2 linked regions of the Homo sapiens genome follow. The protein of the gene in region 1 purifies or fractionates together with the protein of each later gene. This does not show direct contact. Each region holds a gene or a part of one and is shown on either strand. Other genes may lie near its edges. The genes, in order: ELMO1 and POMGNT2.

Evidence for each region.
Region 2: the proteins of ELMO1 (region 1) and POMGNT2 purify together in Homo sapiens (co-immunoprecipitation; 2 studies listed by BioGRID and IntAct, with this or other methods). This does not show direct contact.

What each region holds. Positions count from the first base shown.
Region 1 is NC_000007.14:37,445,573-37,453,164, reverse strand, and holds the start of ELMO1 (engulfment and cell motility protein 1), read left to right. Parts: upstream 1-4,300; 5' UTR 4,301-4,490; intron 4,491-4,586; exon of another isoform or gene 4,587-4,678; intron 4,679-7,592. UniProt on the Homo sapiens protein: Involved in cytoskeletal rearrangements required for phagocytosis of apoptotic cells and cell motility. Acts in association with DOCK1 and CRK. Was initially proposed to be required in complex with DOCK1 to activate Rac Rho small GTPases.
Region 2 is NC_000003.12:43,078,526-43,082,163, reverse strand, and holds the end of POMGNT2 (protein O-linked-mannose beta-1,4-N-acetylglucosaminyltransferase 2), read left to right. Parts: intron 1-627; 5' UTR 628-732; coding exon 733-2,475; 3' UTR 2,476-2,930; downstream 2,931-3,638. UniProt on the Homo sapiens protein: O-linked mannose beta-1,4-N-acetylglucosaminyltransferase that transfers UDP-N-acetyl-D-glucosamine to the 4-position of the mannose to generate N-acetyl-D-glucosamine-beta-1,4-O-D-mannosylprotein.

The sequences.
Region 1 (7,592 bases):
CACATAAAATACACTAGCACTAATGATGAGCTAAAAAAAAAATCACAAAAAAACTCATAATGTTTTAAGAAGGTTCACAATTTTGTGTTGGACTGCATTCAAAGTCGTCCTGGGCCACATGCGGACTGTGGGCCGTGGGTTGGACAAGCTTGATGTGAACCTTCATACAAAGTTAACTGTTTTTGCTTAGAATCCTTCCTCATTACCAACCTACTTCCTTTTGTCTTTTTGTCCTGGATAACACCTCCTCACTCACCCTTCAGGTCTCAAATCAACAGAACTTCCCCAGGAGGCTTTTCCTGACTTACAGATGATGTTAGCATCCCTGTCTCCGCATAGTCCTGCAATCTTCTGTCCTTCTCCTAATATTATACTCCTCACTTGTTTTTATGGCCATTTAAAATCTGTCTTCTGAGCTAGAATGGGAGTGCCAAAAGGGGGCAAGCCATGTTTGTCTTGTTCGTGATTGTACTCTCCCTTCCTCCCTTTTAAACTCACATTTAAAGCATTCAGTGCACGTTGAATTAATGAACGATCAAGTGAAGGAATGCCCTCTCACAGCAGCCCTCCGTGTCATTCTGCTTGTTCCAGGGCTGACCCTAGTGGCTCTAAATTGCAGGTGTCTGCCTGCTGCCCAGATCTCATTATCCCTGGTGTAGCGGCTTCCTGGAGCTGAGGCAACTCTCTATGTCCCCAGAGCTGTTTGAAGACTGGAGGCAAACCAGCATGAGCCTGATTCTAACACAAGAAAAGGGAATAGATTTGTCAAACTGTAGATCAAGGAATTTAGTGCTGATTTGGAGCAGAAATTTGGAGCAAATTACTGAATGTATTATTAAATGCACAGGATCCATTTAGAATCCAATGTTTAAAAATTAAATTAGAAATTAATATTTATGAGCACTTAGGAAGGAGTTGATCAATGTGAGTCATCATTGATTAAAAATACAACAGGCCATTATTGCAGTTTGGGGTTTCATGGTGACACTTTGCATGGTGACATTTTGATAGGATCTCAATCCTCCTAGTTTGGAATTTTGTACACACAAGGAAAGATAAAGACATGGGAAACACAAGATCAAAGTATTTAAATATGAGAAACTGCCCCAAATACCTCTCTGTCCATTAACAATTCAAAGCTTTCTTATAGAAACACGGTGGGGGAATGAAGCTTAGACTTGAGGCTTAAGTGATTTTGATTTTCCAGCCATCTGTCCCTACCCTGCTCTCTTTTCCTCTACTTATCCTGAAACTAAGACAGATGGTTCTACAGAGGAGATCCTGAATCAGTCTCCCTAACCACTTGAGATGTGGATGAGGCTGGCCTGTCTGCACAAAGGTCTAAGTTCTGCCCAGGTGGGCTTACCAGAAGTGCAAGTGAAGGGATGCACTTGGATTCTGTTCCTTGCTATAAAATGGCCGTCCTCACTGCTAAAGCATGACCTAATGATTGAATGGCCCAAGCTGTGACCAGGAGCTGAGAAGGGACAGTGGCAACAGATCTTTCTCACCATTATGGGTGGAGACTGACATGTGAAAAGAGGGAGTGGATGTTGCTCTTTTATTTTTTGAGTCTGTTAATATGACTTGTCCATTGAAGAACTATTGTAGATAATAATAGCTAACATTCAATGAGTGTTTCTATGTGTTAGGCCCTGTTAAGAATTTTTCATGAATTAACTCATTTAATCTTCACTTAACCGTATCTGGCAGACATGGTTTCAATCTCATGAGTTAAGAGTAATGCAGCCAGTAAATGGTAATGGTGGGATTTATACACAACAACCAGGTCCAAAGATGGAGCCCACATACATGACAACACCACATATTCCACTTTATTGCATCCATTGCTGACCACCAGCAGAGCTGAGGGAGAAGGCGGGTTCCTCTAAGACACTTGACAATACTTCTAAGATGTCTTTATGAATAGAAGAGAAAATTGAAGTTTGGCAATTGCACTGTTAAGCAGTTTATTAATAACCAGTGAACCAAAGAATGCTATTCTCCCAGCTTAGCAGAGGGAGCTCCTTAGTGGGATGTCATGTGGCATCTTAATATTTTAATGTAATCCATGGATATGGGGAGACACTGGATGCCTGAATTAAATCCTAAGGGACTTAGAGAAAGTGGATCAGGAACTTTGGTTCCAAAGATCAACTCCATGTTCCCGCACATGGCCTAACCGTAACACTGTAAAGAATTTCCAGTCTTCCCCTTGCACTCCTATCAACACTGAGATGTATTTGAGAAAAAAAAAAAAAGAGAGAGAGAGAGAAGATCTCAGGCTGTATTGTGTTTGCTAATGGTTAATTACGTAATTAATCTATAAGACTACTTTTTTTTCTTTTTTTCTTTTTTCTTTTTTTTTTTTAAAGGGCAGAGACAGATATTCTTCTGGGAGAAGATGGCTCAAATGAGAGAGACTTGAAGCCATGTCACATGAAGAAGAGTCAGAATAATTGAGGATGGTTAATCCTCAAAAGAGAGTGTTTAGGTAAAATTTGAGGGCTGACTTCAAAGATCTGAAAGACTACTTCATGGAGGAAAGATGTGAAGACCCGGGACCAAAGGTTACAGGGGAGTGGATTTGCATAATTGCTGTGCAAGGAGGGAACAATTATGACAGCTAATGTTTACTGAGTGCTCACCACGCATGCACTAAAGTTAAGGTCTTTATATGCCTTAGCTACAAGGTTGTAGATCAAATTCATACTTATCACTACAAGTGTCTCAGAGCATCGTTAGTAAAGGCTCCATTTACTGACTACTTATTAAATTACTTCATTTAATAGTTGGTGCTATTGACTTTTGTTATTATATCATTACTGTTTTATAGATGAGGAAATACAGAAGTTAAGTTGCTTTCCTGCAGTCACCCTGCTTTAGTTACTGGCTTATAACCATCTGGACCCAGGCACTCTTGATACTAATACTGCCTCCCAGAGTCATGCGTATAATAAGGAGTTAGATCAGAGCTGTTCATTAAAAGTATAAGGTGAGCCACTAATGAGAGCCTATGTGTAGCCTTACATTTTCTAGTAGCTACATCAGAAAATGTAAAAAGAAACTGGTGAAATTAATCTTATATATGCTTATATCTTAACCCAACACATGACGAATCCAACTGACTTACTACATCAGACTATTCTCATGTATTGCAATAATGTAATCAACATAAACATACTTAACAAGTTAGTTTACATTCATTTTAAAAATACTGAATTGTATGTCTGTTTTACACTTACAGAACATCTCAGGGATAGCCACATTTCAAGTGCTCAACAGCTGCCTGTGGCTCTTGAGGGGGAAGATCTTAAAAGGGAGCTTAGTTTTCCACCTTGATTCTGATGCCTCCCTGCCCCCGACTTATTTCCTTTGCCAATTAGAAGAAAATGCCGAACTGCCTTTGACTTTTCCGGTAGAGCCAATGTAGGTATTTCTGAACTGGGGGAGGACAGGTGGTTCGCCTGCAACCCTCTTCCCTCCTGCCAGCTAGGCTGGGAGTTAACGTTTTTGATTTCTGCTTTGAAAATGATTTAAGTAGGTTGCATGAATTAAGTAATTTATTCTAAATATCAAATTATGGGTGGAACGTCTTGCCTTATGCAAAGTTATGCAAAATTAGGAAGTCCCTGGCTTAATTGGTTAGAAATACATCTTGTAGTTTCAATTGCAGGGTTAGTAAATACATAGATGTCGACGGAGAGGGAGGAAACTTTTTTTTTTTTTTTTTGCCACTCTGTCCAAGGGTAGAGGCACAGCGTCAAAACAAACACGTCTTAAAGTAGCGTTCAAACAGCCCACCGAAGTTTCCCCTTAATATCCGGAACCGGTTGCCAAAAATTAAAAAAGGATGTGAAAAGATGCTACTCGCTTTTGGCCTCCCGGAGATGGCGCTATGAGGGTGACGGAGTTAATTAGTGCCTCCAAACGCCGTGTGTGAGCTCATCGAAGTCATGCTCTGCACACATATTATTTATAGCAGATCTGAGGCATGCATGGTGTTTGACATTTCTGTCTTTTAAGTAGGGGGACTTCAAAAAGTCGTGGGCATCCCCCTAGGCAAAGTGCAGTGGGCAGGGACCAGGCAGGGTGCGGGCGCAAGGCGAACGCGCAGACCACGAGTGTCCTGGCGCAGGTGCCGGGGGCGGCGGCTGCAACTCCGCAGCGTCCGCTCGGGAGGAGAGTTCGCGGCTGATCTCCGGATGCCTTGCAGATGCAAAATGTGTCTCTGGCCAGCAGGAGGAAGGAAGAGGAAGTGAGAGCAGCGGCAGCCGGCGGTGCAGCAGCCGGCCGACCCAGAGTGTAAGTGCGTGTGCTGGGGCGAGCGGGAGCGGGCGAGGATGGGCACAGGATAGAGGCAGAGCCACCCACGCCGCCGCGGCCCCACGCTGGGCGACAGAGCCTCCAGTTCCCCTTCAATGGTGGCGGGTCGCCGGAGCTCTGATCGCCGGGAACCCTTGCCGCTGCTGTCCTGCGACCCCAAGCAGGTTCGTAAAGTTTCCTGGGCTGGCGCCGCGCCCCGACTCGCTGACCTCGGCGCGGCAGGGGAGGGGGCCGGGACTGGGGCCGGGAGGAGGCGTCCTGCTCCGGGGGACTCCGGGCGCCGCGGAGACACTTTTGTTTCCTCCCTGGGGGCGCCGCGGCTCGGGCGGGGGTGGCCGCCGCGCTCGGCAGGGTGAGGGCTGCGGGCGCGTCGGGGCGCTCTGCAGTTGGGGAAGTCTGAGCTCCGGGGATGGCGGGAGTGGGAGTGGGAGCGGAGGGAGGGGGCGCTGGAGGTGCGGCGCCCGCGGATGAAGCGCAGGGCCCGGGGCCCGGGAGCCCGCCGAGACATTTCGACCAGGGTCTGCGGGAGGGGGGGCGCGGGAGGGTTGCGACGCTGGCGCGGGGTTACTGGGGACGGGGGATGTGGGGCTGGGATCTTGGAGTCAAGATTCCTATAGAGCTAGAGAAGCGGCTGCGGCTCAGACTCGGCGTCTTCTCCTGCACTCGGGGATGGGAGGGAATCCCCCGGCGAGCGCGCTCGTGGGAGGGGGCGGTGATGGGCCAGAGGAATGGGGGCCAGGAGGGCCGGAGAGGGCGGTCTGGGCAGCCGGGAGCCCCTGAGGTTCTGGTTAGTAAATACTCTCCTCCCGGGGACACACCGGGGTCTCCGCCGAGACCGAGAGAGGCGGCGGGGAGCTTTGTGGAGCTTCGTGGAAATCTCGGCTTCGGAGAGGGGACGCACCGGGCGCGCCTTCAGAGAAGGGGGCGGCGGCATGCCAGGGGGCCCGGGAATCGGAGCGGAGAGTGGCGACTGCGATCGCCGGAGTCGCTTTGAGGAAGAGGAAATACAGAACTCAGCTGTCCCGGGGGTGCGCGCGTGTGTTTGGGGTTGGGAAGTCGGTGCTGTGCCGCGAGCGCGCGCGAGGCGGCGTGTGTGTGTGTGTGTGTGTGTGTGTGTGTGTGTGGTGTGTGCGCGCGCGCGTATGTATGTGTGTGTGGTGTGTCGTCGGTGTGTGTGTGAGTGTGTGTGTGTGGGGGGGGTGTTGTGGGTGTGTGTGTGAGTCGGTGTGTGTGTGTGTGACCGCACAGCCAGGAACTCCCCGCCCAGTGACCCTCTCCCGCCTAGGGGGCCATTTGAAGTTGGAGGCGGGTCGGGACCTGCCTTGACCTAAAGGACCAGCCTCAGGCTTGGTCCCAGGTAGTGACCCAGCTCTGAGAGTCCCTGGACGGCTCCCGAGACTCAGTGAATATATTTGGGATGCCCCCCGCGCTGGATCATGGGCTTCCCAACACCGCTGGCCTTGAATGATTCGGGCCTAATTCGTTATGGTTAAGATTTCAGATAATCTAAGACGGGTTGAGGCCTCCAGAAGCGGAGGCTTCCTGTTGGGCGCTGCCAGTGACTTGGGGATGAAGCTATGGAAGAATATCTGAGTGTTTCTCTTTTGCTTCTATAAAAGTAATTAATGACCTGTATTTACACACCAAAACCCTGCGAGCAACTTTGGGACATAGAGGGATATAATCCTTCTCAGAATCACTTTGAGATTGCAAAAACCGGCAGCAGCTATTATTGGGGTCTCCTCTGGCCAGGGTTCTCATATTATCTCACCTCCATGCCTACTTTCCAAGGTTGTTTCAAGCATTAATGTCCCATAATTTACAGATCTGGGGGAAAATAATGGTAAGTTAGGAGGCCAGATCCCCTGCAGAAACATCACATATTTTTAATTTTTCTTATAGCTGACCTTTTGAAGCTTTACTCTTTATTATTGTACATTTCCTATCTCTGGAAGGCTGTGGTTAAATGTGCATGCTGCCTTGTTTCTACTCTGTTTTGTTTGTTTTTATTAGGTTGGTAAATTTTGAGAAAATGACCTGGACTGCTGGGACTCTTGGGGAGGGGTTGTGTCAGGAGGGTACTGAACTGGAGAACAAGAAGTATGGTAGGTATCAGGGAGGGGCAGGCTCGGAGGCAGACCCGGATGGGAGTCTGGGGAAACTCAGGGCCTGGAGCAGTCATTGGGCAAGAAGATGGGCAGTTCTAGTGATGGTCATGCTTACTGTCCTTGGTAACTGCAGGCACCCTCACCGTCTTACATTCTTCTTTTTCACTGAGTTCTCTCCCTAGGGCCTTTGCCCATGATATTACAGGAGGAGCTTTTCTCCCACATGTCCAGATGACTCACTTCCCCTGCTTCTTTCAGGTCTCTGTCCAGTTGTCAGCTTATAGGGGGCCTTCCCTGGCTACCCCATATAAAATAGCAGCCAGACACTCCCTGGGCCTCTTATGTTACTCAGTTTTTTGTCTTAGTACCTTTTACTCCCTGGCATTATACAGTCATTGGTGTATTTTGAGTATTGTCTCTCTCCCTGTTAGAGCAGAAGTTCCATGAGGGTAGTGACTACCTTGTCTTGTTTACAGCTCCAGAACCTGGATGGATTCTTAGCATGATGTCGGTGCTCAATAAGTGTTTGTTGACTGACTAAATGAGAGGTGGCTATACTGGGAGAGATCCACCAGGGAAATATACCAGGAAAATGTTGCAGCATTAGTGCAAGTGAGAAGCCCAGGTAATGGGCTTTTGCTTTTTTCGCTGTCCTTTCCCCCATGCCAGGCCACTCTTCTTTTAGACTCTGTTCTGCCTTGAGTAGACTCCTCCCTTTTTCTGCCTGAAGAAAGGAACAGAGAGGTGATTCCTTGGGAGATTAGATAACCAGTACACTTAATGACACATAACCATTCCAGATCTGGTGTTTCATCACTCTCCTTGGAGAAGGTCTTTTAAAGAAGTCTGTGTTGCTTTAGCCTAGGAGGAAGGGCATGATTGTAAGGGGATTGAAGTCAGAGGCATCTACTGTGTCCCATTCTGCTCTCCTACAATATGGAAGTGAAGACAGGAGGCTGTAAGGGAGGCTGTGTGGCAGATGCAGGGGAGATGAGAAATGCCTAGGAGAAGAAAAATAAAAGTGAGAAAACATTAAGGTGTTCTGCAGGTGCAGCTAAGTCTTGAACATTTACTAAATTACTATATTGAAAAGAAGCTAACTCTTGAGTGTTTCAAAGTAATTTAACCCCTTTGGGTGTTTGGTGTGAGTGGGTGGGG
Region 2 (3,638 bases), on another chromosome or scaffold:
ATGGCCTGTCTTTCCTATGGCCTCTCTTTGTTAGCTTTTGCTGCAGCAGTGCTTCATCACAAACAGCCCCAGAATTTCAGGGATGTTTAATCAGCTGTTGCTCAGCCCTGATGTCTATGTGTTGGCTGATCTTGGCTGCGTTTGGCTGATCGCACTGCTGCTCTTGGCTGGGCCCACTCAGTCATGAGGGATCAGCTGAACTAGAACAGGGCATGGCCGGAGCAGTTCTGCTTCATGCGTATCTCGCTCCTCTTGGGGCCAGCAAGTTAGCCTGAATACATTCTTCTTATGGCAGTGTCATAAAGAGGGCAAGGCCAGCCCAAACACTTTCCAAACCTTTGATTATGTTCTGTCTGCTGACATCTCACTGGCCAAAGCAAGTTAAATGGCTAAGCCCAAAGTCGGGTGTGGGGATGCACTTTCCAACATGGAGGCGATGGGGAGGGAGAGAATATTTTAAACAATGGTCTAATCTACCACGCCTACCAATGTGCACAATGGCTGCAAGGATCCAGTGCTGTAGCGGGCACACAGAGCCTAGCTACCGTGCCTGGCACATAGCAGGAGCTTGTAATGATGCCAGGAAGACTGCCAATTCCTTTTTCTTTTCCTTCTCTCCTCCTGCAGGCTTTCACCAGTTCTCAGGATGCCCATAGGGATGGGTGAAGCCTGCCTGGCCTGTGGTGCTTCCCAGTGGCCGTCATCTCATTAGGGCCCCACAGTGGCATTAGGATGCACCTCTCGGCGGTGTTCAACGCCCTCCTGGTGTCGGTGCTGGCAGCGGTCCTGTGGAAGCATGTGCGGCTGCGTGAGCATGCAGCCACACTGGAGGAGGAGCTGGCCCTCAGCCGACAGGCCACAGAGCCAGCCCCAGCACTGAGGATCGACTACCCGAAGGCACTGCAGATCCTGATGGAGGGCGGCACACACATGGTGTGCACGGGCCGCACGCACACAGACCGCATCTGCCGCTTCAAGTGGCTCTGCTACTCCAACGAGGCTGAGGAGTTCATCTTCTTCCATGGCAACACCTCTGTCATGCTGCCCAACCTGGGCTCCCGGCGCTTCCAGCCAGCCCTGCTCGACCTATCCACCGTGGAGGACCACAACACTCAGTACTTCAACTTCGTGGAGCTGCCTGCTGCTGCCCTGCGCTTCATGCCCAAGCCGGTGTTCGTGCCAGACGTGGCCCTCATCGCCAACCGCTTCAACCCCGACAACCTCATGCACGTCTTTCATGACGACCTGCTGCCACTCTTCTACACCCTGCGGCAGTTTCCCGGCCTGGCCCACGAGGCACGGCTCTTCTTCATGGAGGGCTGGGGCGAGGGTGCACACTTCGACCTCTACAAGCTGCTCAGCCCCAAGCAGCCTCTCCTGCGGGCACAGCTGAAGACCCTGGGCCGGCTGCTGTGCTTCTCCCATGCTTTTGTGGGCCTCTCCAAGATCACTACCTGGTACCAGTATGGCTTTGTGCAGCCCCAGGGCCCGAAGGCCAACATCCTCGTCTCAGGCAATGAGATCCGGCAGTTTGCACGGTTCATGACAGAAAAGCTGAACGTGAGCCACACAGGAGTCCCCCTAGGCGAGGAGTACATTCTGGTCTTTAGCCGAACCCAGAACAGACTCATTCTGAATGAGGCAGAGCTGCTGCTGGCACTGGCCCAGGAGTTCCAGATGAAGACAGTGACAGTGTCCCTGGAGGACCACACCTTTGCTGATGTCGTGCGGCTGGTCAGCAATGCCTCCATGCTGGTCAGCATGCATGGGGCCCAGCTGGTCACCACCCTCTTCCTGCCCCGTGGGGCAACTGTGGTAGAGCTCTTCCCATATGCTGTCAATCCCGACCACTACACTCCCTATAAGACGCTGGCCATGCTGCCTGGCATGGACCTCCAGTATGTAGCCTGGCGGAACATGATGCCAGAGAACACAGTCACACACCCTGAGCGGCCCTGGGATCAGGGGGGCATCACCCATCTGGACCGGGCTGAGCAAGCCCGTATCCTGCAAAGCCGTGAGGTCCCACGGCATCTCTGTTGCCGGAACCCCGAGTGGCTCTTCCGAATCTACCAGGACACCAAGGTGGACATCCCGTCCCTCATTCAAACCATACGGCGCGTGGTGAAGGGCCGGCCAGGACCACGGAAGCAGAAGTGGACAGTCGGCCTATATCCAGGCAAGGTGCGGGAGGCACGGTGCCAGGCGTCAGTGCATGGCGCCTCCGAGGCCCGCCTCACTGTCTCCTGGCAGATCCCATGGAACCTTAAATACCTGAAGGTGAGGGAGGTGAAGTACGAGGTGTGGCTGCAGGAGCAGGGGGAGAACACCTACGTGCCTTACATCCTGGCTCTGCAGAACCACACCTTCACTGAGAACATCAAGCCCTTCACCACCTACCTGGTGTGGGTCCGCTGCATCTTCAACAAGATCCTCCTGGGACCCTTTGCAGATGTGCTGGTGTGCAACACGTAGCGAGCAGGCCACAGCCTGGCCTCGGGAAGGTGGCTCCTGCAGTTCAGCGTCCCTGGGCCCATTAATCCCACTGTGGAGACTTCTGGGAACTATTTATTGAGCAGGCCTGTGCCTCCACATCATCTTGTTGTCTCTGGGGTGTGGTGTCACAGCACTCCTCTTTGCCCTAGAGATAAGGGACCTGACTTCCCCTTCTCCCATCCTGAACATTTGTACCCCTGGAGAAGTTCCTTAGCAGGGAGGAGGAAGAGGAGAGGAGGAAGCAAAGAATCACAAGGAACCTCTGGCTAGGTGATCCTGATGTTTCCTACTGAGTTTTTCTGGTATCCAGATTTCTGGAAACCGAGTAATCATGTACTGTTTGATTGGGTGGTTCATCTGCTTCCATCCCAGTGAAATTTACCTGTAGCCCAGTGAAGGGTGTGTTTGGAACATTCATTAAATGATTCTAAGCATCTTGGTCAAGTCTTCTTATTGGATGGGAGGAAGGGGAGCTGGTCGTCAAAACCCAGGTGCCCTTTAATCTTGATTGTTAGCTAGGGAGACGTGGCAATGGGAAAGCGCCCAGGATGGCAAAGTGAGCAAGCTGGTTGGATTTCATCTTGACTAGCTGGACTAATATCACAGTTCCACCTACATGGGATAAAAGCCTAGAAGTAGGTAGGAGAGGGCTGAGGGGAGGAAGAGCTGTATCCACCATGGGTTTTTTTTTGGGCTCAACTAGACATTAAGACTCGCAAGACCTGGACAGATCATACCTGGCATCAGAGTTTCTTAGAAGGATGGAGAGAGATGCTCAGCATGCCAGCAGGGCCATGTCAGCAGTTCCCTTCCACAGGAGCAGTCCTTACATCAGTACTCCTGAGGGCCACCTTGATTCAGAAGCCCATGCCCCATAGGAGTCAATGTGTTTTCAACAACCCACAATCAGAGTTCCCAGGGTCCCTCAAGGGACATGCCCAGTTATGAGTTTCTGCACTTAGGGAAGCCTAAGGCCATGGTTTCTTACCAGATGGTATAGCTTATTCTTTGTCCTTCCAGCCCAGGTGTAGCTTATCAATCAGAGGTCAAAAACTCCCATGGGCAGTTTGGCCTAATACTGTACCTGACATTCAGCTAACTGGCTTGTCTGGCTTCCATGGGAGCAGAGCTAGAAAGTTAGC